Linked DNA regions of Homo sapiens: regions 1, 2 and 4 are each reported to be linked to region 3. Evidence: microRNA targets listed by miRTarBase, many of them from high-throughput screens and not tested one by one. Region 3 holds a microRNA gene; each other region holds the end of a gene's coding sequence.

Region 1 (7,113 bases), not on the chromosome of region 3:
ATGTTGTCTAACTGTTCTCCCTGTTCTGAATTCAGTCAGGACATAAAGGTTTTTAAAGTCTTATTTCCTTATAAAGTGGTTTCCTGGGCCAACCATGCCCGAGTCATAGTGAACCTAACAAGACACCCTTTTCAGTTTAGAGTTCCTGAGAAGGTAATAATAGGTTATATTTGCCTTCTTCAACGTGTCTGACTACTCCCTTGTCTTCCCACTCCCCTCTGCCCTGCTTCACTTCTGCACAGGCTCCCACTGCCCTGGCTCCTGTACACCGTCATTCACAGATTCCAGCCAGTGGCTGTCAGCAGCAATGGCCTTTTCTGTGCCATCGTCCTTCTCTTCATCATGCTGCTCTTCGTCATCCTCTCTATCGCCCTCTGCAAGTGGCGAATGAACAAAATCCTGGGCTTCATCATGTTTGGCCTCTACTTTGTGTTCCTGGTGGTGAGCGTTCTCCTAGAAGACAGAATTCTTACATGCCCCGTCTCCATCTAGCAGGAAAAGCCATATCTTGCACCAGCAGCATGAATGGTCCCTCCACACTCTGGGCTCTGGGCTCCTTGACCTCTTGAGAAGAGGCAGCTGGCACACAGCCCTGGGTGCCAAGTGTCCCTCCTTGGTGAATTTGAGGAGAGATGGATTCACACTGGGCCCATTCACTTCACAGGCTGCTTCCACCCTGCCTACTGAAATGACTTCATGTAAAAGACAAAGAGAACCGTCAATACAGGGCTTCTCCCTATTCACCACTGACAAGTACACCTCGCTGGTCGGAGGTACAGTCGATGCAAACAAGGACACAGGCTATATATATCTATAAATACACATATTATAAATATACGCACATGAACACACAAATCCTGCCTGTTCCTGTACTATACCTCTCCTTGCATACCTATAGATTAGTACATACCTGTAAATAAAGACAAAGAAAAATTATATATATATATATAAAATCAGATATATATAAAAGTACAAATGCATCTTTTCAGGGATAGCTCTAGTATATTTATAGTACTTATTTGAAGAGGGGCATCAACTTGCAGTCTGGGCTTTACCTCTTAAGTACAAGAGGTGAACTAATGGAACCAACAAGACAAAGGTAGCATTGCTGTGACCTTCAGCCTACCTTGGACTTGCTGTGATCCTGCCTAGTAAGGTAGATGGTTTAGGGAAATAGCTTGCAGGGAGGAGGGCTTAGTGGAGAAGGTCTGTAGGGGCCCTGAGTTGAGCCTTCCAAAACATTCCTACAAGCCAAACAGAGAGACTATCTGCCCACCTCCACCAGAGTACCCTGACCAAGAAACTCAGGGTACTTAGGACAGAAAGAGGTAAAAACCCAGGCTGGGTGGCTTGGTTTGGGGAAGTGGGGAGGTAACCAGGGTTGGGTTGTTTTGTTTTGTTCTTATATTGTCCCAGCATGCAAGTAGAAAATATGACTACAAACCAAATTAGTGCTTTTTCTAGGACAGCAAGACTATATAAACTGAACCTGTATTTTTCCAGCGCATGTCCCATTATCATCAAAAGAAGAGGGGTAAGTTTAGCTGTGATTGTCATGTAGATATATTTTGATGCTAAGGGCTGCCAAGAGAGCCTAGATGTGCAATAAGAAGTCATCCAGTAAAGGTGCTTAGTGGGCCTTGCCACCTAATGGGATGTAAGGGCATAGTTCTTTAAAACGTTTTCCAGTGTAGTCATAAAGGGCTTTAGTGTCTGAAGAAATCATTATTCCCAATAGCACTAACTTAACTCTGATCAGCACTGCTTGGGTTGAGGCAACTTAGCGATGCTTGGAAAGGCATTTGCACACTCAGTGCACCCCAGGAAGGTTTCTGAGTGCCAGGTCGAGTGGTACCAGGACCAGGCTTTGGTTAAAGTTCTTGTAACATCTATGTCTCTTCTTCCATCAAGACCTTATCTGGGATTCTGTCTAAGTTTTAGAGTACACGGTATTTGACAGCTTCCTTATACTGGTTTCAAGCTATTCACTCCAACAATTTGATTTCTTGATTTTGCTCAACATTACATTGAATGCATGAAATTAAAATATTCCACGCCCCCAAGTTCTGTATGACACCTTGTGTGTTTTCTCAGATCTATGTCAGTCGAAAATAAAGCCAGCAAGGGGGAAAAAATAGGCAAACTGAATCAATGGAAAACTATGTAGAGCACTTTTCTTTTCTCCAAGTCATGCTTTCCTTAAAATCAGTTGAAAAATTGAATCAAGGATGGTTCATTATTCTGTACCCATCCTACGTCTAAGTTGGTACATATGGCATATGGGAAATTTCACCATATGTGTTCCTATCTCCAATCTATTCTGTCATTGACGCCTGCTATGATTTTGTTGTGAGCACATACCTCTTAACATAAGAGGACAGGATGCAGAACTCACAGCAGAATAAGAGGAAAGGTAACCTGACAGCCCCAGATCAAGCTCAGTATTCCTTCCAGAAAACCTCAGCTCACCCCACAGAGCATGGCAATAACAGGAAATGCCCATCATTCCTCTTCACCCAGAAGTAAAAAGCACTTCAAACCCGAGGCCCCCTGGGAAAACAAGAAATCAAGATGGCTGCCAGTCGGAGGCTGGCTTTCAAGTCTCTCCAACTCGGCAGATTGGGGTCTTCAGATGTGGGACAATGCCTTCCAAGACATTGAAACACCATCCAATAGAGGCGCTGAGTGGAACCTGCCACCTAATGGGAATGAATCTCATTCATCAAGGTCAGGACTTTGTACTGGGGCAAGAATTTGTCCTGCTTCCTTAGAGAGTGAAAGAATGAGGAAGTGAACTTTACGTTTAAAAACTCCAGTTGTTTTCCCTGTGTATTTCTTGAAGGGCAACCAAGTTGGTTATTGTGTGAATTTTATATTATTGACTGGTGCGTTGTTTGAAATAAGGTTTAAATAGGTGACTGACTCAACTGCAAACAGACCATGTAAAACAGAAGTTGAAGGAGACCTGATGCCGCCCTCTTCTTATTCCTGATCCTCCCTCTGCCTCCTCACTCCCTCCCATTTATTCCCAGCTTACAGTGAAGGCTGATCAAAGCAGCTATGGTGCCCTTTGCTTGTCTCGGAGCTCCACTTCACAGGAAGTGTTGTGGTCTTTCATGTGAAGTTGCATTTGAGAAGACAAAATTTCCAAGCCCCGTTCCCACATCAGTCATGTGCACTGAGCCTGACCTACAACAGCACTGCTCCCTCACTGGATGGGACACAAGTGATTCCACAGCCTGCCCTTGCTTTCCCTTCATTTCTGTGTCTGTAAGTGGTTATGTGTTGAGCCAGGGTAAATTCAGAGAGATGTGTACAGAGTTCAACAATGGGTCTTTAAACCATTCAAATCATTGGCATAATTATAAGAACTTTCCACACCGTGGTTTCCAAAACAGGTCATCTCTAACTCGTTTCCTGCATGCCTGTGTATATACATATATAAATATATACATATATATATATATACATATATATATATATATATATATCTTTATACCAGATCTATATGTACACATATAATATGACTTACATCATCACCCTCTGACCCTATCACATTCAGGATTCTAAAGCAGGGAGCATCAAGTTTGCCAAAGTCAAGGAAAAGGAAAGTCATGCACACAAACCAAAGGGAACATTTCTTCCTGATTTCATAAGGTTGTTTGTTCCATGCACATATATTTACAAATATACACATATGTACCCATATTTTCCCACCCTAAGAATATCAATTTATAGCCTTAAGGAAATCGGTCAGCCATATCCCTAATGCTGATATAGAGGCAAAGAATACACAACAGAAAATACAAAGCAAAAATTTAGACTGCAGATACTCTCTTTGCTTCTCTGGAGCAGGGTATAAAAGATATCAACAATTCAAGAGCCAACATTGTACTAATCAATCTAAAATAAATGAGTTGCACGCAAATGATTTCATTTATTCACAGCAAACCGAGCAGGTCTTGCTTGCTGTCACCGCCTACCCTCCCCCATACTTCCAAGGCAGCAGAGCAGCTTGGCTCAAACTGACAATTCCCAAATAGAAACTCCTAAATTGCATCTGAGAATGCCCATGCCAACTCCAGCTGCCCTCTGCACCTGACCAGATCCTGATGAACTGAAGCTGAAGATCAGATGGTGTTTATGCAGCTTCCCAGGACCTAAACTGAGTCAGGCAGTGACAGAGCAATGATATATGCAGGGACTAAGGGATAGGGTTGTTTATACCCTCGGCAGATGCAGCAGAATGTCCTAAAGCCTTGCCCAGAAGATTATAAAAAGAGGCGGAGACTGTTTTATATTCAGGAAAAATGCTTTGTAAGGCTTCTAACAGGTGTCACCTGACAAGGGCCATCATAATTTATTTTATAGGGAAGACATGAATCAGGTGGTTTGGAGCCCTTTCAGCAAAACGCAGCTGCCTCGCTGATTAGACATTTGACAATGTTAATGTACATCCATTCCTGGGCAGGGAGAGAGTTGGCAAACTCCCCACCACTGCACATAGCTTTTAAAGGCCTCTGGAACAGTGAGAGAAGAGATGAGCTACAAAGGGAGCCCACCCCCAGACCACTTTAACAAAAAGTTGACCAAAGAAAAGACACCTGGTAGAGTGGCTGGCCAGATAGAGCTGAAGAAGATGGAAGTTGCATTAAATGCTCTGCAGAAATTACTGCGTTGGACTATCTAACATGGGTCTGATGGCAGGCATTTCAGAACATGGCAGTGTGCTTTCCTCCCCACATCTACCAAACACACACCCACACCCCCACACACACGCGAGATTATGTGGATGCTATGCCTCCTTGCACCTGGACAGATTGTTTTTCTGGTAAGTAGGTGGCCCTATTATAGGTGGCAGCTGTGTTCCAGAAGAAACAAAGTGAAGCTGTTCTCAGGGTGATTTCTGGAGAAAACTACTGTCTCCTGAAAGCATGCATAGAAGTCAGTGCTCACTCTTGCTAAGCCACATATTCCTTAACGATCCGGCTTAATATTTTTAAAAGATACCTCCTCAACCCCTATACCTGTCTCAACAATACTGTCTTCAATTATTAGGTAAGGCCTTGTCATTAAGAGAGGGGTAGGAGAAAAAATAGAATAATAAGGAAAGGGAAGAAAGGAGATATTAATTTCCTAGGATTCCAAGAAAACAAGTGTCACGTGGAAATATATCCCTATGTAGTTTAAAACAGTAACAAATATCAGGCTATGTTTAGCCAATTACAAGAGCCCATATACAGTTTTAGATTTTTTTAAAAAATAATCTCAGGAAGACCTTGGGTAAGAAAAGTAACCCTGCCCTATTCCACCTTCTATTTACTGTTAGCTCCCTGACTCTGCCTCTGCCTCTGTCTTTGCGTTTCATTTTTAATCTCAGAGCTTCATATTTTTTAAATATATAGCAAACAAGAAAAGCAATAAGGGAACTACTCACAGCCAGCTCAACTCTATTACTTATGATTACACCATGGCAATATTCCTTTTTCACCAGGAGCTTTGGACCTGCGCAGGTTGTGGCATGTAATCACCCGGAGCATGTAGTCGTCTGTAGAAATCACAGGCACACTCATGTTTGCTCTGGAAGGAATCTGTTTTCCACAATGACTCCCCCCAGCTAATGTACACACTGGCATTTTGCATGCCTTCCTCACACATGGGGCACCAGCCTTGCTCAGAACCACCCAAACTCCACAGAGGCCCTTAATATGGCTAGGGACAGATTTCTTAAGAAAGAGTAAGAAGCAGCTACAAAGGACAAGCAAATCCACAAGTCAGGCAGCATTCGAGAGGCAAAAATGACCCTGCAATTACGACAGGCTAGGCAACTGTTTTCAAATTAGCGTACGAACAGTGAGGGACTGTGTAGAGCACCATATTATCTAAGCCAAAGCACTTCTACCAGATCATTCATTGACAGACTGGAAAACCTAATAAAATCTTTAAAAACAGACAAATATCTAAGTCTGAAAGAATGCCATGGAGTTTGCCTAGGCTTCCACCAAAGATTTAATTCCATTAAGAGGGTTTGTCTAGCCTATCACGCTAATCCAAAGGACAGTCCTCTTACGGGGGAGATCCCAGCATAGATGCTGGTGTGACCCAGCTCAATGATTAACAACCATCAGCATCAAGAAAAGCCTCCCTCCAAGTTAACCCAAACCCATCCACTTAATGACTTAACTTTTTTTTTTTTTTTTTTTTTTTTTGGCAAAAAGTAACTGCATCTGGGCACTCTTCACTCTTTGCCCCATAGTTGGAAGTTACCGCTATGTGACTCTTTACCTATTTTCAATTAAAATTATCTTTAGATTTTTATTTGAGTCTTTAACCCTCTTAATAATTTTTATAGTTCCTCTCTACTAAGCCTTTTTAAGTTCTTTATATTGTTCTTAAATGATGGAACCTTATGACTAATGATAATCACTGTCTGAACAGTGTTGAACTATACTGGGTGCAGCATGACCATGAAGCTCTGGTGAAGTCAAGGTCACAAACTGCTTTTAAGGTCATTAGGTCATAATCTCAGACTCACAAAGAACTCAAAATTGGGGAGACACCACTTTAGATTACTCCAAAACTCTGGGCCTGTACTTACCCACTAATTTATCAAGAGGAATCAATATTTTTATTTTAAATATGAAACTGGGATAAATGATTGGATCTCCACTTATTAACCAGTACTGCAGTGTGTTTATATCCTTTTGTGTGGTAGGTTGGATAGGATTTGTAAAGCTACTGATTGATCTCATGGGCCAGGGTTCACCAAAAGGATGGGAATTTGTTTCTGCATTCTTACATATTGGGTTGCATATTCCTTCATAATGGATCCATAAGTAACTAAGGCCTTGGAGACTAACAGTTCTCCAAAATACTCAGCTAACCAAAAGAAAATACTAATTTTTAAAATCATGTCATAAAAAACAGAAAAGTAAAAAAAGTCTGAAATCCTGAATAAAATTATTTTAAGGATGAAATTACATGCATAAATTAAGGGTAGATAACTTCTTGCCATTTAATTAAACAAATCCCCAATTCTTATCAGAATAAAACTGAAGGACAATGGATGCCTTTTGGGTTTTTTAATTTTTTAATATTGCACTTTATAGTACT
Region 2 (7,125 bases), not on the chromosome of region 3:
AAGAAGTTGTTTTTGGAGGAGAGAAAGCAGATTGAAAGGAAAAGGACAGCTGATAGCCACTTAAATAATGTCATCGTTAGAGTGATACCTATTTTTTGTAAAAAGAAAACAATATGCTCCATTCTTACAAAGCATTGATTGTATTTTAATATATACAATGTAAATACTATCATGCAGTGGTGTCCAAGGGAGAGAATACAGTCATGAGTTCTTAGTTTCTGTTATTGGTTGGGCCAATAAAGCCCCTTCATCATCCTTCTTTTCTGCTTATCACTAGAGACAGAAACTAAAAACCATGGCTTCAGGCTGCTAAAAGCCTAAAACAAAACAGAACAACAACAACAAATAAGGCAGGTTGGACAAGCTTGCTGAGTATTTGGGAGCCTTTTTCAAAAGTCTGATTTGGGGGAAGTAAAGTCACTTATTTTAAGCTACCTTAGTATAGCACCTAAAGAGTTACTTTGTGAATTTTGTATGGCTGCAATTGAAAAAAAAAATTGCTCACTTTCACTTGCATTTAAAAATCAGAGCTCTAAAAGTTAATTCTTGTTTTTTATTGGGAAACTCTGAGAGAAACATTAATTGATGAGGGTAATAATTTTGGTATAAAGCCAGTGAAATTTTAATGCTTAACATGTTGGGTTTTTTAAAATTACTGATTGAAACTCTTCCTTTTCTATTTAAAGATGATGAAAAAGATGAGCATACTTCTAAAAAGCGCAAAGTAGAGCCAGGAGAACCAGCAAAGAAGAAAAAGTAGAAACAAATGACCAGAATTTCTGTACTGCTAAACTTGTTGAAATGTTTCTTTGGACAGATTAAGTTGATATTGTGGGTTATTATGCCACATCTCCATGAAAATGCATACGTTAATGAACTAATAAGTATTGCCTCAAGAACTTTCCACTATAGAATTCTTTTTTTATTTAAAACATGTATGTATTTAAAACTCAACTGGTGACTTGTGATTGTGAAATTGATAACACTTGGATGCATTCTTGCTCTCACAGAATTGGTGACATGCTTTGAGAGTTTTGTCACATGTTGACATGCCAATGTTCTTATAAACCTTTTATAAAGGAATATATTTTTAAAGTAAATATATTGTAATGTACTGTGAACTTGTAGGGTGCTTTTCAACAGTCTTTGTACAGTGTAAATAGATCATGGAAATAAAATTACTTATTCAATATTACTATTACTGTATAACATTAACATTTGAATGTTTGTCTGTGACAAGTACCCTATTTGTCGTGTGACATTTTAAGTTGTAATAAGAAGTATTACCATTTAAAGAGTGCCTCCTGTGTTCCAGGTGCTTTGTGCATATATTTTCTCTGATCCTTAAACAACCTAGCGCAAGGTATTATTAGTATTCTCATTTTATAATAAAGAGTGCTTGAGTAGCTTGTCTGATGTTACACAGCTAGTGAGTGGTTCATTTGGAATTTAACTTGGGACACTTGAACCTCAAAATCATCACATTAAACCACCTGTCCACCAGTCAAAATTTAGTCATCTTTCAGGAATGACATCAATTGTCATCTCTTCCAGGTACTTTTTTCTGTTGTACCTGGAGATCCGTTAGTAGAGATCTTTTCCTCTCCTGATTGGATGACTGTACTTGTCATCTGTGCTTTATGGTTATTCATTAATTTCTTTATTAAATTGTAAGTTTACAGGACATTCAGTTAAATTTGAATTTCAGATAAATAATGTTTTAGTATATTTAATATTCAGGACATATACAAAAAATGTGTTTATCTGAAATTCAAATTTAACTGAACATCTTTTATCTGGTAACCCTACTTCTACATGTTTTCTCTACCCAGCTTCTATTTTAATGCTTTGCGTATAGTAATAATAAAATGAACAAGAAGTAGTTGGGAAGGTGTGATCGTTGAGTTCCAAAATGCAGTTATTTGTAGCATTTTGAACAATAAAAAGGTTACACTCTGCATCAATCTTTCCATGAATCTGAAGCCCTTAAGAGATAAGAATTACAGAACAGTGCACATTCAGTGTATAAGAACAAGACAGCCAAGCATGGTGGCTTATGCTTGTAATCCCAGCACTTTGGGAGGCCAAGGTGGGAGGATAGCTTGAGGCCAAGAGTTGGAGACCAGCCTAGACAACATGATAAGACCTCATCTTTACAAAAAATAATTTAGAAAGAAAAAGACATAATCTAAGTATTTTTTTTTAAATCTGTTTTTCCCCATTGTGGAAGATAAAATTTGAACAATTACGCGAGATTTGTTTACCTAGGCATGTGTATCAAGTAGATTAAAATTCATAAAAGTCATTAAGAGTGATTGCATCAGCCATGGTGCTTTGTGGAATGAAGGTCCATAACAGCATGATGGCTTCCAGTATATCATCGAGTTTAGAAAAACCAATTCTATAGCTGCCCATCCTCCAGGTTTGCAAATATATGAATCCCAAAATTGAAGTAATTGCTAAAGCAAGAATATGTTTTTTTAAGATTGTAGTCTTTGTAATGAATTTGGAAATCTGTGGTATCATATACTAAGGAGTGGCATCAAGTGACAAAGCAAGACCATAGTATGTACATGACACCAAACACAACCAAATCAAGTTATATTTGTGAAGTTGTGATTCCCAAGCTCTGGAGAAATCTAAAATTTGGATGCATGTGTTGGTGGAGCAAATATCTCAGAAGTTACTGAAATATTGCAAGGTTCTTAAGTTAGCATGAAAGCAAACTTTTTTCTCTCTTTCCTGGGAGATGTGCAGAGTATGTTGTATGAGGAGGAAGACAGGACTTAGGGAAGAGGCTAAATATTTTGGAGCAAGTCTGACTCAGCCATTTGTATCTCCTGGTTGGAAAACGGACTGTCATATCACTCTACATTCATCATCACATTAGAGAATAGATTATTTTCCCCTTTAGAGATGTCCTGGGAACGTGTTTGCACAAGTGTCCATGTGGGTACTGAGGTGAAGTTTGGTTGAGCTAGTGGAAACCTAGTGGGGAAAAGTCTTAAAAATCCATATACATAAGAAAAATCATCTGTCCAAGTATCTTTCATTTTAGAGAATCGAGTCACTTGATACTTCTGATTGTTTCCTGCACTTTAAGTTAAGCCTGGGCAACATGTTGAGATCCTGATCTGGTTTGGCTGTGTCCCCAACCAAATCTCACTTGAATTGTAATTCCCACAATTCCCACGTGTCATGGGTGGTGACTGAATTATGGGGGTGGGTCTTTCCGGTGCTGTTCTTATGATAGTGAATGAGTCTTACGAGATCTGATGGTTTTAAAAACCATCAGTGCAGGGAGTTGCCCTGCACAAGCTCTCTGCCTGCTGCCCTCCACATAAGATGTGTCTTGCTCCTCTTGCCTTCTGCCATGATTGTGAGGCTTCCTCAGCCATGTGGAACTGTAAGTCCAATTAAACCTGTTTCTTGCAAATTGCCCAGTCTCTGGTATGTCTTTATCAGCAGCATGAAAATGGACTAATACAGTTAATTTGTACCAGTAGAGTGGGGTACTGCTGAAAAGATACCCAAAAACGTGGAAGTGACTTTGGAACTGAGTACAAGGCAGAGCTTGGAATGTTTGGAGGGCTCAGAAGAAGACAGGAAAATATGGGACAGTTTGGAACTCCCTAGAGGCTTGTTGAATGGCTTTGACCAAAATGCTGATAATGATATGAACAATGAAATCCAGGCTGAGGTGGTCTCAGATGGAGATGAGGAACTTGTTGGGAACTAGAGCAAAGGTCACTCTTGATATGTTTTAGCAAAGAGACTAGTGGCATTTTGCCCCTGTCCTAGAGATTTGTGGAACTTTGAACTTGAGAGAGATAATTTAGGGTATTTGGTGGAAGAAATTTTTAAGCAGCAAAGCATTCAAGAGGTTACTTGGATGCCATTAAAGGCATTCAGTTTTATAAGGGAAGCAGAGCTTGAAAGTTCAGAAAATTTGCAGTCTGACAATGCCATAGAAAAGAAAATCCCATTTTCTGAGAAGAAATTTAACCTGGCTGCAGAAATTTGCTTAAGTAATGAAGAGCCAAATGTTAATCCCCAAGACAACGGGGAAAATGTCTCCAGGGCAGGTTAGAGGTCTTCACAGCAGCCCCTCCCATCACAGGCCCAGAGGCCTAGGAGGAAAAAGTGGTTTTGTGGGCTGGACCCAGGATTCCTGTGCTGTGTGCAGCCTAGGGACTTGGTGCCCTGTATCCCAGCCACTCCAGCCATGGCTGAAAGGAGCCAACGTAGAGCTCAGGCCATGGCTTCGGAGCATGCAAGCCCCAAGCCTTGGCAGCTTCCATGTGGTGTTGAGCCTGCAGGTACACAGAAGTCAAGAATTGGGCTTTGGGAACCTCTGCCTAGATTTCAGAAGATGTATGGAAACAACTGGATTCCCAGGCAGAAGTTTGTTGCAGGGATGGGGACCCTCATGGAGAACCTCTGCTAGGGCAGTGCAGAAGGGAAATGTGGGGTTGAAACCCCCAGAGTCCCTGCTGTGGCACCACCTAGTGGAGCTGTAAGAAAAGGGCCACCATCCTCCAGACCCCAGAATGGTAGATCTACTTACAGCTTGCACCATGCGCCTGAAAAAGTCACTGACAGTGCCAGCCCATGAAGGCAGTGGGGATGGAGGCTGTACCCTGCAAAGCCACAGCGGCAGAGCTTCCCAAGACCATGGGAACCCACCTCTTGCATTAGCATGACCCAGATGAGAGACATGGAGTCAAAGGAGATCATTTTGGAGCTTCAAGATTTGACTGCCTTGCTGGATTTCAGACCTGCATGGGGCCTGTAGCCCCTTTGTTTTGGTCAGTTCTCCCATTTGGAATGGCTGTATTTACCCAATGCCTTTACCCCCATTGTATCTAGGAAGTAACTAACTTGCTTTTGGTTTTACAGGCTCACAGGCAGAAGGGACTTGCCTTGTCTCAGATGAGACATGGGACTGTGGACTTTTGGGTTAATGCTGAAGTGAGTTAAGACTTTGGGGGACTATTGGGAAGACATGACTGGTTTTGAAATGTGAGGACCTGAGATTTGGGAGGGGCTGGGGTGGAATGATATGGTTTGGCTGTGTCCCCACCCAAATCTCATCTTGAATTGTAACTCCCACAATTCCCAGATGTCATGGGAGGAACCCATTGGGAGGTGACTGAATTATGAGGGCAGATCTTTCCCGTGCTGTTCTCATGCTAGTGAATGGGTCTCATGAGACCTGATGATTTTAAAAATGGGAGTTGCCCTGCACAAGCTCTTTTTGCCTGCTGCCATCCAGGTAAGATGTGACTTGCTCTTTCTTGCCTTATGCCATGATTGTGAGGCTTCCCCAGCCACATGGAAGTGTATGCCCAATTCAACCTCTTTCTTTTGTAAATTGCCCAGTTTTGGGTACGTCTTTATCAGCAGCATGAAAATGGACTAATACAGACCTCATCTCTACAAAAAAATTTAAAAATTAGCCAGGCGTGGTGGTGCACGATAGTAGTCCTAGCTATTGGGAAAGGCTGAAGCAGGAGGATCACTTGAGCCCAGGAGTTAAAGGCTGCAGTGAGCTATGATGCACCACTGTACCCTGGCATGGGTGACAGAGCAAGATCCCATCTCTAAAAAAAAGAAATAAACCATATCAGGCATGAATGGCTTTTTGTACAGGGTAATTTGAGAAAATAACTAAGCATATGTGGGCCATGTTTTAAAATTTGAAGTGTAAATAGCTTCATAGAGTTTTATGGGAAACATTCTAACTGGAATCAGAAAAATATTACTGATTCAACTGCTTTGGCCAAAAAAAATTACTGAGAAAATTGGCAATGCGTTTTCACCATTAAAACACTAAGATCTGGACTCAGTTGTAAACTTGCAACTTTCTAATCTTAAAATTTAATGCTGTGTAGTGCTTTTGAATTCACAAAGTTTAGTCACATAATATTTTAGTTTCCAAAAATCCAATTAGGTAGGTTTCATCATTTTCAAATTGTGGAATGGAAAATAGGCCTAGTGAGCTGACATAGTGTACCCATGGATGTACAGTGTGTTAGCTTCAGAGAAGAGAGGGATGGAGAAACTGGTAGTGCTTAGTTGGATATAATAGCTGAGCATGAGGCTTTCTTTTATTGCTAATTATATTTTTAAATTTAAAATATGAATGGATTAATGCAGGTTTGAACATAATCTACATTTAAAATATGTCACACAAGTTAGGTACAAAGCTCTACCAGAGACATTTGAAACCTCTAAGTATTTTTACAGGTCTATATAATCCGAATAAATGCAGCAACTCAATTTGATTAAGTCAAAAACTGACTAATCTGAATTCATAACTGGACTTTAAAACATGGGTGGTATTTTGGAATTTTAGAATTTTTATCCATACTGTACTGCTTCCCTATGTCACCCCTCCATTTCATAATAGTACAGAAGTTTCACATATTCCTACAAAATCGTGTTAAAATTCCCAGCAAATGTTTTGGAATTTGCATTACATTCTAAAGTTTTCTCTCTTCATCTTCCTCCACATAGATAATTTTTCCAATTTTTTGAAGCATTGCCTTTCAATGAAAAGAGAGTGTGGGGAGATACCAAGAGGCATTTGTGTGTTCTGTCCACAGACAAGGGACTTTTTGCCTGTTTTGTTCATTGACTAGAACAATGCCTGGCACATAGTAGGCACTCAATATGACTGCTAAATGTTGCAAGTAAGCTGAATTCCTCACCCCTGGCTTAGGGTTGATTCTCATTTGTCTTGGTATAATGCTATCCCCCCATCCAGAGGCTTGTGTTTTCAGTTATATGGGCCAATATGTCTTATTAACAATGTAAACAAGTTTGAATTGGGTTTTCTGTCATTTTTCCACTAAAACCATCAATTAGTGCAAAACTGATTTACTCTTTTGGTTTCTTCCAGGGCTCCATGCTATTCTGGTTCTATTTTCTCTGGTTCCTTCTCTTCCAACTGCCCCTGGTTGCCAGTGTAGTCTACATTGTTATTCTTCTCATTCTCTACCCTTGTTCTTGAAGATTTCAACCAAGTTCATGGCTACTACAATCAGTAACACTTTGATGATCCCCTATACTGTATGGCTTGCCAGAGTGCTCTTATAAAGCCTAGATTTGTGTATCCAATTG
Region 3 (7,125 bases):
ATTTCACTCCTGCATATTTGCTAACAGAAAAGAAAATCTATGTTTACAAAAAGGCTTGTACGTGAACATTCATATTACCTTGATTCATAATAGCTTCAAACTGGAAACAGTCCAAATGACAATTAGCAAAAGAATGGATTAGCAAACTGATATGAGCATAAAATAGAATATACTCAGCAATAATCACGAACAAATTAATGATAAACACAACATGGATGAATTTTAAAAACATGCTGAGCAAAAAATGCCAGGCATATTACTACAGGACATATTACTACATATGTCCATAGATAAGAAGTTCTAGAATAGACAAAATAAATCTTTATTAATGCAAATTAGATCAGCGGTTAGACTAGATTAGGTGGCAGTGGATTGACAGAAAAGGAACATAAGATAAATTTTTGGTGTTAAAAACGTTCCTTGTATCTTGTTTGTGGTCATGATTATACAACTGTTTACACTGGCCAAACTCAACAAATTTTACATTTAATTGGGTGCTTTTTTTTATATTTAAGTTACTTCTCAATATGTTTCACAAAAAATTAATATGGAACAGGGAAATCTGAGCTTCAATTCATTCCATGTAAAACAATTTCATATGGCTTTGATTGGTTGCATGTTCAATTGCAGCCAAGTAGTTACCAAAATTATTCCTCATTCTGAGGCTGCCTGAACAAAAACACACTAAGTACAGATCAGGAGACAGTATGACCACTGTCTGGCCACAAACGTAATACTATGTCCTGTTCTTTCTAACATATTTTAAGAAAGCACTTCACTTTGGGAAGATGATGATGCTCATAATGAGAGATGGCAAAAAGAATGCTCAAGGTAACTGGAATTGCTTTTAGCCAGAGAAAGGGAAAACTTAGTTGGGATCTTACAGCCATCCTAAAATACTGCAAGGTTAGTGTGGCAGAAACTGCTGGATACTACCCCAATTTTTCCTTACTTCTTCATTAATAGAATTACAATTCTATTGAGTATGGCAACGTGCCCAGGTATAAAATGTATTTCATCAAATCCCATTTTAGTTAAGGCCAATGAGGCATATGTTGGTCAGGACTTTAAGAACAGACCCTTTAAAAGATCAGTTAGCCTTAGTGGGCATGTGCCTTTCTTCTTTCTCCAAGTGGAATATTACAATGATGACTATAGCTTCAGCCTTTATCAGCAACCATGAGGAAAAGACAGAGAGCTTGGGTCTAATATCTTCAAGACACTGAATTAACACCAACGCTTCATTCGATTTCTCATTTTGTGAGAAAAATATTTAGAGAAGTATTTGGAGAAGTCCACTGTTAATGAGTTTTCTGTTACATGAAGGAAAACACGAAACTCTAACTGATACTAGGTAGATATAGAGAATGCACAGACATGCATGTTTTCGCTCCAGAAGGCAGAGCGTGAGCAAGCTAAATATAGCTAGGTATTAGGTCAGTATGATGAAAAATGTAATGATGGAGCTTTACAAAAACTGAATGGGCTAGCTAAAAACATAGCGACTCCTGTACTAGCAGTTCAGTAAAGTCTGCAGGGCAACACGCCAGCTACACTAAATGAGGTCTGCCTAGGAAGCAGTGGAAAAAAAATTTTGTGAACTCCTAAGGGTTATTCCTTTAAACTCTAAGATGCTATGGCTGGACTTTTTTTAGAGTAATTATATTTGTCTATTTCATGTTATGGTAGGAATTTGCCCTAAGGAAGTAGAACTAGTTTAGCTCAGAATGGCAATATTTCTTCTAAAACTTATTAGGAAACTAGAAGGAACGCTTTGTGGATGTAGTTTTCCTAAAGGTCATGCAGAACTTCCAGGTATTACAGATTTTGAAAGATGAATAATAGCCATTTTAGTGGTTATCTTTTTTTTTTTTTAATAGATGGAGTTGTCCAGGCTGGAGGGCAGTGGCATGATCTTGGCTTACTGCAACCTCCGCCTCCTGGGTTCAAGTGATTCTCCTGCTTCAGCCTCCTGAGTAGCTGGGATTACAGGCCCCTGCACCACACCCAGCTAATTTTTGTATTTTTAGTAGAGACGGGATTTCGCCATCTTGGCCAGGCTACTCTTGATCTCCTGACCTCAGGTGATCCACCCGCCTTGGCCTCCCAAAGAGCTGGGATTACAAGCATGAGCCGTCGTGCCCAGCTCATATCATTCTCAAAGGACTTTTGTAGCACACAGAATGGTTTCTAAATAATATTATCCATATCTTGACTAACACGGTGAAACCCCATCTCTACTAAAAATCCAAAAAATTAGCCGGGCGCGGTGGCGGGCGCCTGTAATCCCAGCTACTCAGGAGGCTGAGGCAGGAGAACGGCGAGAACCCGGGGGGCGGAGCTTGCAGTGAGCCGAGATAGCGCCACTGCAGTCCGGCCTGGGCGAAAGAGCGAGTACTCCGTCTCAAAAAATAATAATAATAATAATATCATCCATAATATTAGTTGATAGTCTCTTCATAATTCTAAATCCAGCATTTTTCAAAGCATTACCAATGAAGGAGAACTTTTAAGATGAAGCTAAATATAAAAAAAAAGTGAATTACTGCAAATTACTATACATAGTATAATTTGAAATTTTGGTAATATTGTCTAAGACAAATCATCCTTTTGGGATAGTTTTTTTCCATACTGTTCAAACTACCCTTCATCCTATAACGGCAGACATGGCCTAATGATTCTCATTTTTAATCAACAGTGTTGTCAGACATTTCAATGATTCTGAACATAATGTTATGACATTCAGGGCCAGAGAGCAAGCATTCTCTACTTGCTCTCAGCTGAAAGCAAAGAGGTTCTCAAGAGCTGCCAGCCTTTCTCCTTTATGCTCTGAAAGCCTCCTAAACTTGTCAGTTTACTTCCATTACCCTTTTATTGAAAACAATGAAAGAAAAAAAGTTACTACGGTGTTTATACTTTTAAAGTGAATGTCTTTTGTAATAAGGTAGAAATATCACAGAACCATCGAATGTTGGAATCAGAAGCATGTTTGGCATATCATCAAGTACAATAGCCACATCCTGCCTATGTGGAAAGCTGGAGGGGCTAAAGGACCTCTCAAAGCTACACATGTAGAGTCAGCAGCAGAGCAGAGCTTAAAGCAGCAAGTGACTCTTACGGCCATCAGTAATCACACTCTTGCTTAACATGCAAATGAATAAAGCTATTTTTATAAAATCCCTCCCCCCCCCATATATTGGCAGTAACTCTAAATTCTAGTCATTTTTTAACCATTACAGAATAAGATTAGAAGCATCAGTAGTTAATGGTGATAATAATTTCCATTTTATATGGGGTTTTATGGTTCACAAATATATTTTATAAAATAAGTTTCTAACATTTCATTTTCTTATATTGAGGGCTTTTAAAAGAAATAACCAAAACCTATTTTATTAAAATTTGATATTTAAAATTATAGTTGAGAATAGTGGAAGATTTTTCCCATTATCTTTGCTCTCCTGGATAGCAACCAGATAAATGACTTCCCAGAGAAATGCATAGAGTCATATAAGATAAAACGTCTTTTTTTCTCCATTTTACTCAGAGTTTGATGATGAACTATGACTGGATATTGAAATAATCATTCTTTTATCCTTTGTAGTAAGGCTTACTTTGTCCAGTGGCAACATGATCAGACAAGCAGCTCTCAGATGACATGTGACAATATTAAATTCAATCTTAGCAAGCAGCTTCTCAATTTCACACTTGTGGTAGCTGGATTAACCCAATTATTTTTTGGAGGTTAAGGGAAACTTTCACATTTGCAGAATACCATCCTTCAGAAACCGGAATGTAGGATTTTGTTATCTCAAAGAATTTTATGGAGATGGAAAGATCAGTTAGTATTAAATTTTAGCACACAATCAGATGAAGGGTTTAGGAAGAAGTAGATATGATTACCTAATAATTCACTTTGAGTTCTTCACTTTGAGCCTCAAAAATGTGTGAAACTTGGGACTTTTACTAAGCATATCTTTCAGGCAAAATATTTTCATTGTACCAGTTCCAAGCTCTTGGTTCTAACACAAAACCCCTGCTACACATACACACACATGCACTCACACACACACAGGCTACCTATATATACACCTGCTATGTGTGTGGATATGTATTTACACATACACATATCAGGTGTATACATACGTAGCATGTATATATACACATACACACACACGCACACAGGCACACACATACTTGTTACCTATATATGTATACATGCACATATCAGGTGTATGTAAATGTAACATGTATATGTACACACACGCACACAGGCACACACATACTTGTTACCTATATATGTATACATGCACATATCAGGTGTATGTAAATGTAACATGTATATGTACACACACGCACACAGGCACACACATACTTGTTACATATATAATTACACATGCACATATCAGGTGTATGTAAATGTAACATTTATATATACACACGCGCACACAGGCACACACATACTTGCTACATATATATACAGTCAGGTGCTGCATGATGACATTTTGCTCAAGAACAAATCACATACATGAGGGTGGTTCCATAGATTATAGTGGAGCTGAAAAACTCTAGTGGCATTGTTCTCATTGTGACATTAGTGCAATTACTTAATTTTTAAAACAAATTTAGTGTAACCTAAGTGTACAGTGTTTATAAAGCCTACAGTAATGCATAGTAACGTCTTAGGCCTTCACATTTGCTCACTGCTCATTCACAGATCCACCCAGAGCAACTTCTACTCCCACAAGTTCCATGAAAAGTGCCCTATACAGGGGTGGCAATTTTTTTTAATCTTTTATATCATATTTCGCTGTACCTTTTCTGTGTTTAGATATGTTTAGATATACAAATACCACTGCATTGTAATTGCCTACAGTGTTCAGTACAATAACATGCTATGCAGGTTTGTAGCTTAGAAGTAATAAGCTATACGACATAACCTAGTTGTTTAGGAGGCTACACAATGTGTTTGTGTTATGTGCACTCTATGATGTTCTCTCAACAATGAAGTCACCTAATGATGCATTTCTCAGAAAGCATCTCCATTATTAAATGGCACATGAACGTATTTGCTACATATATACATACTGGCTATAAACACACACACACACACACACACACTCACACACACCTGCTACAGTCCTTTCAAAGTATAAAAAAAGATACCAAAATGTGTTAGAGATTCGTTTGTAAAATGTAACTATTTTCGGACCAGATGGATTCACAGCCGAATTCTACCAGAGGTACAAGGAGGAACTGGTACCATTCCTTCTGAAACTATTCCAATCAATAGAAAAAGAGGGAAACCTCCCTAACTCATTTTATGAGGCCAGCATCATCCTGATACCAAAGCCAGGCAGAGACACAACCAAAAAAGAGAATTTTAGACCAATATCCTTGATGAACATTGATGCAAAAATCCTCAATAAAATACTGGCAACCCGAATCCAGCAGCACATCAAAAAGCTTATCCACCATGATCAAGTGGGCTTCATCCCTGGGATGCAAGGCTGGTTCAATATACGCAAATCAATAAATGTAATCCAGCGTATAAACAGAACCAAAGACAAAAACCACATGATTATCTCAATAGATGCAGAAAAGGCCTTTGACAAAATTCAACAACGCTTCATGCTAAAAACTCTCAATAAATTAGGTATTGATGGGATGTATCTCAAAATAATAAGAGCTATCTATGACAAACCCACAGCCAATATCATAATGAATGGGCAAAAACTGGAAGCATTCCCTTTGAAAACTGGCACAAGACAGGGATGCCCTCTCTCACCTCTCCTATTCAACATAGTGTTGGAAGTTCTGGCCAGGGCAATCAGGCAGGAGAAGGAAATAAAGGGTATTCAGTTAGGAAAAGAGGAAGTCAAACTGTCCCTGTTTGCAGACAACATGATTGTACATCTAGAAAACCCCATTGTCTCAGCCCAAAATCTCCTTAAGCTGATAAGCAACTTCAGCAAAGTTTCAGGATACAAAATCCATGTACAAAAATCACAAGCATTCTTATACACCAATAACAGACAGAGAGCCAAATCATGAGTGAACTCCCATTCACAATTGCTTCAAAGAGAATAAAATACTTAGGAATCCAACTTACAAGGGACGTGGAGGACCTCTTCAAGGAGAACTACAAACCACTGCTCAAGGAAATAAAAGAGGACACAAACAAATGGAAGAACATTCCATGCTCATGGGTAGGAAGAATCAGTATCGTGAAAATGGCCGTATTGCCCCAGGTAATTTATAGATTCAATGCCATCCCCATCAAGCTACCAATGACTTTCTTCACAGAATCGGAAACAACTCTTTAAAGTTCATATGGAAGCAAAAAAGAGCCCGCATCGCCAAGTCAATCCTAAGCCAAAAGAACAAAGCTGGAGGCATCATGCTACCTGACTTCAAACTATACTACAAGGCTACAGTAACCAAAACAGCATGGAACTGGTACCAAAATAGAGATATAGATCAATGGAACAGAATAGAGCCCTCAGAAATAACGCCGCATATCTACAACTATCTGATCTTTGACAAACCTGAGAAAAACAAGCAATGGGGAAAGGATTCCCTATTTAATAAATGGTGCTGGGAAAACTGGCTAGCCATATGTAGAAAGCTGAAACTGGATCCCTTCCTTACACCTTATACAAAAATTAATTCAAGATGGATTAAAGATTTAAACGTTAGACCTAAAACCATAAAAACCCTAGAAGAAAACCTAGGCATTACCATTCAGGACATAGGCATGGGCAAGGACTTCAAGTCTAAAACACCAAAAGCAATGGCAACAAAAGACAAAATTGACAAATGGGATCTAATTATACTAAAGAGCTTCTGCACAGCAAAAGAAACTACCAACAGAGTGAACAGGCAACCTACAAAATGGGAGAAAATTTTCGCAACCTACTCATCTGACAAAGGGCTAATATCCAGAATCTACAATGAACTCAAACAAATTTACAAGAAAAAAACAAACAACCCCATCAAAAAGTGGGCGAAGGATATGAACAGACACTTCTCAAAAGAAGACATTTATGCAGCCAACAGACACATGAAAAAATGCTCATCATCACTGGCCATCAGAGAAATGCAAATCAAAACCACAATGGGATACCA
Region 4 (7,125 bases), not on the chromosome of region 3:
GTCATTTGTGCTTTTTCAGGGTGTTTTTTTGGTTTGATATCTTGAAATATGATTAAAACATTGGCTTCCTAAAGGCAGTTTCCACCAGTTTGCCAAAGGATCATTGTGTCAGCAGCAAATCAGCTGAACTTTATTTCCAAAGGCAAAATCCTTTCTGATTATTTTAGTAACATAGTACTTTTATGATGTTGCAAATAAATGAAGGGCCCACAGCCCAAGAATGAATTACCACTGTGGTTCAACTTAGGTTATTTTTGTGAGCTGAAATGATCATATCTCAGTTGAAAACTGGCTAAAATTTAGGGCCTTAAATTAACAGGTATACATTTTATTTCCCTATAAATTTTTGCTTTTACAATTTCTAGGCCAGGCGCGGTGGCTCACGCCTATAATCCCAGGACTTTGGAAGGCTGAGGCGGGCGGATCACGAGGTCAGGAGTTCGAGACCAGCCTGACCAATATGGTGAAATCCCGTCTCTACTAAAAATACAAAAATTAGCTGGTTTTGGTGGCATGCACCTGTAATCCCAGCTGCTCAGGAGGCTAAGGCAGGACAATAGCTGGAACCTGGGAGGTGGAGATTGCAGTGAGCAGAGATTGCACCATTGTACTCCAGCCTGAGCAAAAAGAGCAAAAAACTCCACCTCAAAAAAAAATTTTTTTTTCTAGAGTGGTATAAGACTCTACATTTTGTATGGGTAGAATGATAGGGCACGGTAAATATTTCCCCGTGATTCATCAAGCTGGTCTAGCTTTTTTTTTTTTTTTTTTTTTTTTTTGAGACAGAGGCTCACTCTGTCACCCAGGCTGGAGTGCAATGGCATGACCTCAGCTCACTGCAACCTCCACCTCCTAGGCTCAAGCGATTCTCCTGCCTCAGCCTCCAGAGTAGCTGGGATTACAGGCACCTGCCACCACGGCCGGCTAATTTGTTTTTGTATTTTTTAGTAGAAACAGGGTTTCACCACATTGGCCAGGCTGGTCTTGAACTCCTGACCTCACGTGGTCCACCTGCCTCGGCCTCGCAAAGTGCTGAGATTATAGGTGTGAGCCACTGCACCTGGCCCTAGCTTTTGATACTGTCATTTCCCTTTGGGCTTGAGACTGTTCTAGTCAATCCTGGTCTCATTGTTTGCCTGACAGGTACCATGATTTAAAAAAAAAAAAAAAAAACAGAATGAAATTTTGGGATATAGTGTAGACTCTCTAGTAACTGTTAATCCCATAATACAGGTCCAATTTCCATAAACAATAGTATACTACTTTGACTACTTTTGACTTGGTTTCAAGGTGACCTGGAGGTGGAAGAGGGTATATTGGGTGGTTGGTTTATATGTTATTATTACTGAGAAACCAGTTTATTTTCATGTTTATACTGAAGATATAGCCTCCCAAATTTTACAATTTAGGTATTTCTCTAAGAATAGTATTATTAGTTAATACCTAACATTTGAGTGTTTGCTATGTGTCAGACCCTGTGTGTTTAGTCCTGCATTATTTTATGTAATCATTACGACAGTCCTATGAGGTAGGGTTTATAATTGAGGAATCTGGAACTTAGATGATAATTAAGAGCCGTTTGTGTGAAAAGTGTTGAAACACTGAACTAAAGCTGTGATGTGGAGATGAAGACGAGACAGATACACATTGAAAAGATAAAATTGAAGAATTGACACAGTTGAATTGATAGGAATTTATAAACAACCAGAAAAAGATCATGGCAAAGAGGTTAAGGTAAGTGGGAATTTTGGTTTGGGTAATTGAATTAGATTGACAGATGGGAATACAGGGGAATTAGGTTGGGAGGATTGGATGGGGATGTCCTCAGTTTTGGTCAAGATTTTAAGGTGGTTGTAGAAAGAGTCTCTTAAGTGGAGAAACCTTTTAGTATACAATTGGATATGTGAATCTAGAGTTTCAGAAAGGTTCTAACTGAGAAACAAATTTATGAGTTCACTTATTTATTTGAAGGTTCACAAGGTCACCCTGGGGTTTGTAAAATGAGAAGGTAGAAGAGAGTTGTGAGGTACACCATCATTTAAGAGTCTCAAAGAAGACTGCCTAAGAAGGCATGAGCAGCAAGGTAGGAGAGCCAGAAGAGAGTGGTAGAAACCAAGGGAAAAATGTCAAGAATCAAAGAATGATCAACCCTGTCATACCACAGTTGAAGACTGAAGAGAGCCCAAGTGATGTTAGGAAAAGAGCAGTCTCAGTGGAGTGGTGGAGGCAGCAGGGACACGGTGAGTGTACACTAATGGCCACAGACTGTAGAAGAGGGTGAGTCTGTAATTGCTGACTATATAAAGGTGCTTATAGATTTTTTGTTAGCAGCCCTCATGTAGTTGTTGGTTGTTTATAAAAATATCTAGCATAGAGACATGGTAAGAGCCACAAATATAGTCAGGAACTACAAGATTTTATGGGCGATGCTTTTATCTGCATGGACACACAGATAAAAAGCAGTATTTTACTACTTCATAATATGCAAGAGTGAACTTGGTTTATCTACTGAAAGCCTGACTGTTGTAAGGACAGTCAGTGAGTACAACAAACCTGCAGTGTTATTTTAATTGTTCTTGTTTACTTTGCACGGCTGCCCAGCTATAGAGTCTTATCCTTCTGGATGGGAACACAGCTGTATTCCTGCCCATCCACATTGCAGCTAGGGTTGAGATTGCTGAGTGAGTTGATTTCTAGGGTAGTGACTCTAGACATACATTTTCTTTCTCATGGCTCCTGAGTCTTTAGGCAGAAAAAGGGATGAGTTCTGTCTTTTAGCAACCCCCCACCCCCACCCTTCTGGTAAAAATAAAATACACTGGACTAGTAAAAATAAAATATGTGGAATGAAGTGGTCAGAAAAGAACTTACTGGTGTTGCCTTTTTTTTTTTTTTTTAACTTAATACCATCATCTATTGTCATAGTCACTGAAGTAGATGCTTTAACTCAACAACACTTGATAGTTGAGAGCACAGTGAATTTATTATGTGAATGACTTTTTCTTTGGCCTTAGCGGCAATTCCTAAAGTCATCTTTAGCAGTATTTTTACTGTTGTTGTTTTGTTTTCAGTGAAGCCAAGGTTTCAGTGTTAGAGTAGTATTCTCCTAGACTCAGAGGAAGCTTTAAGGGCCAATTTCCAGTTTCTGTGTCTAAAGAGAAGCTTGATAAATGTTCGTTCTCTGGATGTTGTTTCAGGCCTAAGTAGTTTAGTGTGATGTTGCAGCAGTCAGTTTCACAGTTAATTAATAGTCTTTTCAAGGCAGCTGCTTTGGAATGTATAGTGGAACACCAGTAGTCTTTACTTTCCTCTGAAAGTCTGTCATTACACTTACAAATATTTATTGCCCTTCCTGAGGGTCCTTTGGCCTAGAAGATTGTTTTCATGGAATCTATGTCAAATTCTTTTAATTTACTACACTTTATTAATAGATTGAAAGCCATTTTTCTGGGACAACAAAGTTGTTATTCTCAAAAGTTGGTAAAATTTTTTAAGAAGATATAATTCATACTACAATAACAGCATCTTCATACTACATAGTTCTAGCAACTTTGAGACACTCTCAAAAAGTTTGAGAAGTTTTAACTGGAGATTAACAATAACAAACACCTTGTATTAGTTTTAGCAACCCAAAGTTGTTCTGTTTCCAGAAGGACATCAAAGTGAGTGTAGTTGCAATCTGTCAAATAAAAGATTGGTATCTACTATGTATGTTTTCAACACCTCTTTAATCTTGGTTGTCCAACCTATAATGTGACTGACTTCCAGCCTTTTTAGGACATTGCCAGAGTCAGGGAGCTTGTTTTCTTAACAAACATGCCAGAAAACTATAAAGAAAAAATAACTTTTTGGAGGGGGTGGGAGATAACTTTAATACATTAAGCAAATTAAATCAAAGGACAAAAATATAACAGTAGACACAAGACAATTTTGAATCATTAACAAAATGTGAGGTAGACTAGTGAAATTCACCAAATTTTGGTTAAGAACATTTTACAGTAATAACACGGGTGCCCCATTTTCTAAAAATCACAAAAAGCAATTGCATAAATTACAGCCAAAAAAAATTATAACAATTGTCTTCTAGTTTTTCGTTTACATTCAGTATTAACCTGTGTGAACTGTCATACATGCTGAGGTTCAGCAGGTCTACAGGTGAGTTACTGTGTGGGCCTAGCGAATCCATTCATCCCACATCAGTGTCCTAAGGGATTGCAAAGCTTAAAGCTGAACACACTAGGATATATATATATATACACACAAATCATGGTGTCCTGTGCTTGTGCAATTTTATCCTTAAAGAAGGACCTAACATACTCAAGAATTATACTGATGATAAGATGATTTTAAAAGATCCAAACATTAGTAAGATAGGCTTTGAAAAGAATAGGCAGATCAATTTCTCCATTATAGGGGTGATGGTCTTTTGGCTTTATTCTGGCATATCTCTTCCAGAGTTAAATAGTATTTAAGAGCTCATAATAATAATTTGAATTTTCAGAGTGCAGCCCTAACTAATGGAGTACCTGCATCTGATGTAACTACTTAAAAAAAAAGTTCTTTAAACTATGAAGTCATAAAGCCAGAAGAAACCCTGAGAGGCCATCCACCCCAGGTACAATTGTTTCAGAATTCTTTCAAGTATTTTATTTGCCCTATGTAAATGTTATTGGAATATTGCACAGACAGTGGGTTTCTTGGTATTATTTGCATTAGGCCCTTTCAACAAAACAGGAACAAGTGAAATACATTCATATTTAAACCAAATTGCTTCAAAACATACCTCTTTACCAAAAATTCTGCTGTACTAAAATTAAGGAGTATTTTTTAAAGCATATATAAGGCAGGTCCTCTTTGAAGGACAATTAAAAATGGGGTTAAAAGGAATTGTTCACTTCAAAATACAGTTAAAGCATTATAAGTAGCTATATTAAAACCAAGAGATCTGCAAACCATTTTTAGTCTAATACATTCCATTTTTTCACTAGCTTTGTAAACTCCTTGTTGTCATAAGATAATAAAGCTGGTCAATTAACACTATTTGTTCTAAGTAAATGCAGGCTTAGTAGGCCCCTCAGTAGTTTCAGGTCACAAACAAGATTGATTCAAGTAAAAATGGCCATTTTAAGTGGGGATAAAGTAGTAAATATGGGCTAATGAGAAAACTCTCAAGAGATTGTTCAATGATGAGAACTGGAGTAATTTAAGAGTAAACTTCTAAGACTTAGTTTTATCTAGAACACTTTCTAAAAATAATGTTTTTGATTAAAATATTTGAGAAATCTGTAGAAACATATGCCTCCCATTGCCGATACTGGACAAACACCCCCTGCTGATTTTAATGAATCAAAAAGACTCTTAATGGAGTCTTCCTTACTCCTCACAAGAGTCACTGGTAAGATTAAGTAAAAAAACATTTCTCTTTCTATGGCTCAATTTCCCAATTCGGCAATTTCTGTGGCGTTGTCAGTGTAAGGTGGTAATATTTAGTGCATCTTTTAAAGGAAGCTTTGCTTGAGTCCCTGAAAGGAAACAAACTAGTTTCACTCTGCAACAGAACCTCAGCCTGACATTTAGGTTTGCTGGTGCCAACTGCTTAATTCCAACCAAACGGTGGGTGCAGGTTACCTGCTGAAAGCTTCTTAACTGACTTAAGTTCTTGCAAAAGATTAATCACTGTTCCATAGTCTCATAGATAAGATATTCTTAAAGACTGGAAACACATTTAAAGAGTGGGTAAAGCAAAGGAATTAGGCTAGGAGAAGATGCATAAATGCACACAATGCCTGCTCTGCATTTACTGATTTGTTTGTTCAGTTTAAATAGTAAACTTCTAACTCCTGTGGAAATTTTGCCAAAAGTTTCAATACATAGAAGATTATAAATCTTAAACTAACACTGCACAGAGAAAGACAAAGCTACTTCTTTTTTTAAATACAAATATCGTCTACATTCTATCATTTCAAACCCCTGAGTAATACTGTACCAAAGTACAGATCTGAAGAGAAACTGAGGGTTCAGGCCTCAAACGTTAATCTTCAATTGATTCCACACCAATGGCATGAGTCTCATGTAACACATTCAGGCTAGTTAATCCTGACAGTCAGTTTCCCCCTAACATAGTAATAGAAAAAAATAATGCAAACTCCATATTCACTCTCCAAAGTATATCCTCCTCAGGATCCCATGGGCAGACCGTATCTTAAGTAATTGCATAACTGCCTAGGATAGAGTTTACCTGAATTTAAGGGTCCTGTAATTGGAACTGAAGGAAAGTGATGTCCCCAAAGACCTGGATCAGATTTGGGGAGTTCTTTGGAGAATTTAGACAAATATGTTGCACTTTGCTCCACAGTGATTGTACTTTAAAGGAAAAAGAAAAATCCCAAATTGTTTCTGTCCCATCCCACCTAGGCATCTTTTTGCTGTTTTGGTCTCTTCAAAAGCTCATACATGACGTCCAGTAAGAAAGTAGAGAGGCTTGTCATCACTGCTGTTAGCAGTTTGAAACTCGTCCCGGAGGCGGAACTGCCACTCATCTTCTAGCTCTAAGCGGACAATTGTTTGGCGCAAGGAACTTCTGTCTTGGCAGATGACACACAGTGTAGCACCTTCAGGAAAAAAGACAGAAATATGTCCTAGGCTCAGGGATTGAATTTATAAAGAACTTTATCTCTGATTATATTTCCTAAGCTAACACATCTGAGAACCAACAGATGGATAAGCAATCTATCAGAATTGTTTTATTTTATTAAGTAGTTTTGCAAATTCAGTAATTTTTTTTGTTTCTTTTTTTGAGACGGAGTCTTGCTCTGTCTCCAGGCTGGAGTGCAGTGGTGCGATCTCGGTTCACTGCAACCTCTGCCTCCTGGGTTCAAGCAATTCCCCTGCGTTAGCCTCCCAAGTAGCTGAGACTACAGGTGTCTGCCACCAGGCCCAGCTAATTTTTTTTTGTATTTTAGTAGAGATGGGGTTTCATCATGTTGGCCAGGATGGTCTCGATCTCCTGACCTCGTGATCCACCTGCCTCGGCCTTCCAAGGTGCTGGGATTACAGGTGTGAGCCACTGCGCCCAGCCCAAATTCAGTAATTTTTAAGAGTATAAAGTAAGTAATCTTCCAACCA

The links. The annotated mature microRNA hsa-miR-4789-5p reads GUAUACACCUGAUAUGUGUAUG and lies in region 3 at 4,118-4,139, opposite strand. An mRNA with a match to its seed (bases 2 to 7 or 8) in the 3' UTR can be bound and repressed. Matches are read on the target gene's strand: a 7mer-m8 pairs with bases 2 to 8, a 7mer-A1 pairs with bases 2 to 7 and ends in A, and an 8mer does both.
Region 1: the mRNA of SLC24A2 is a reported target of hsa-miR-4789-5p. Seed matches in the 3' UTR shown: 7mer-m8 at 3,428-3,434.
Region 2: miRTarBase lists C1orf52 as a target of hsa-miR-4789-5p. Seed matches in the 3' UTR shown: 7mer-A1 at 1,203-1,209 and 8mer at 2,022-2,029.
Region 4: miRTarBase lists GREB1L as a target of hsa-miR-4789-5p. Seed matches in the 3' UTR shown: 7mer-m8 at 4,253-4,259.

Annotation. Positions count from the first base shown.
Region 1 is chr9:19,509,532-19,516,644 of GRCh38, reverse strand. It overlaps SLC24A2 (solute carrier family 24 member 2), which reads left to right. Exons shown (of 11, transcript NM_020344.4): 11 at 243-7,113. The coding sequence ends at 492. All of the region lies in intron 4 of LOC105375988 (a long non-coding RNA gene), which reads right to left. Among named protein-coding and RNA genes, the nearest start is that of MAP1LC3BP1, 50 kb to the right of the region's middle.
Region 2 is chr1:85,246,264-85,253,388 of GRCh38, reverse strand. C1orf52 (chromosome 1 open reading frame 52) reads left to right here. Exons shown (of 3, transcript NM_198077.4): 3 at 687-3,436. The coding sequence ends at 760. Among named protein-coding and RNA genes, the nearest start is that of C1orf52, 9.8 kb to the left of the region's middle.
Region 3 is chr3:175,366,566-175,373,690 of GRCh38, reverse strand. It overlaps MIR4789 (microRNA 4789), which reads right to left and starts at 4,151; the gene lies at 4,070-4,151. All of the region lies in intron 5 of NAALADL2 (N-acetylated alpha-linked acidic dipeptidase like 2), which reads right to left.
Region 4 is chr18:21,522,144-21,529,268 of GRCh38, reverse strand. It overlaps GREB1L (GREB1 like retinoic acid receptor coactivator), which reads right to left. Exons shown (of 33, transcript NM_001142966.3): 33 at 3,157-6,611. The coding sequence ends at 6,448. Among named protein-coding and RNA genes, the nearest start is that of GREB1L-AS1, 75 kb to the right of the region's middle.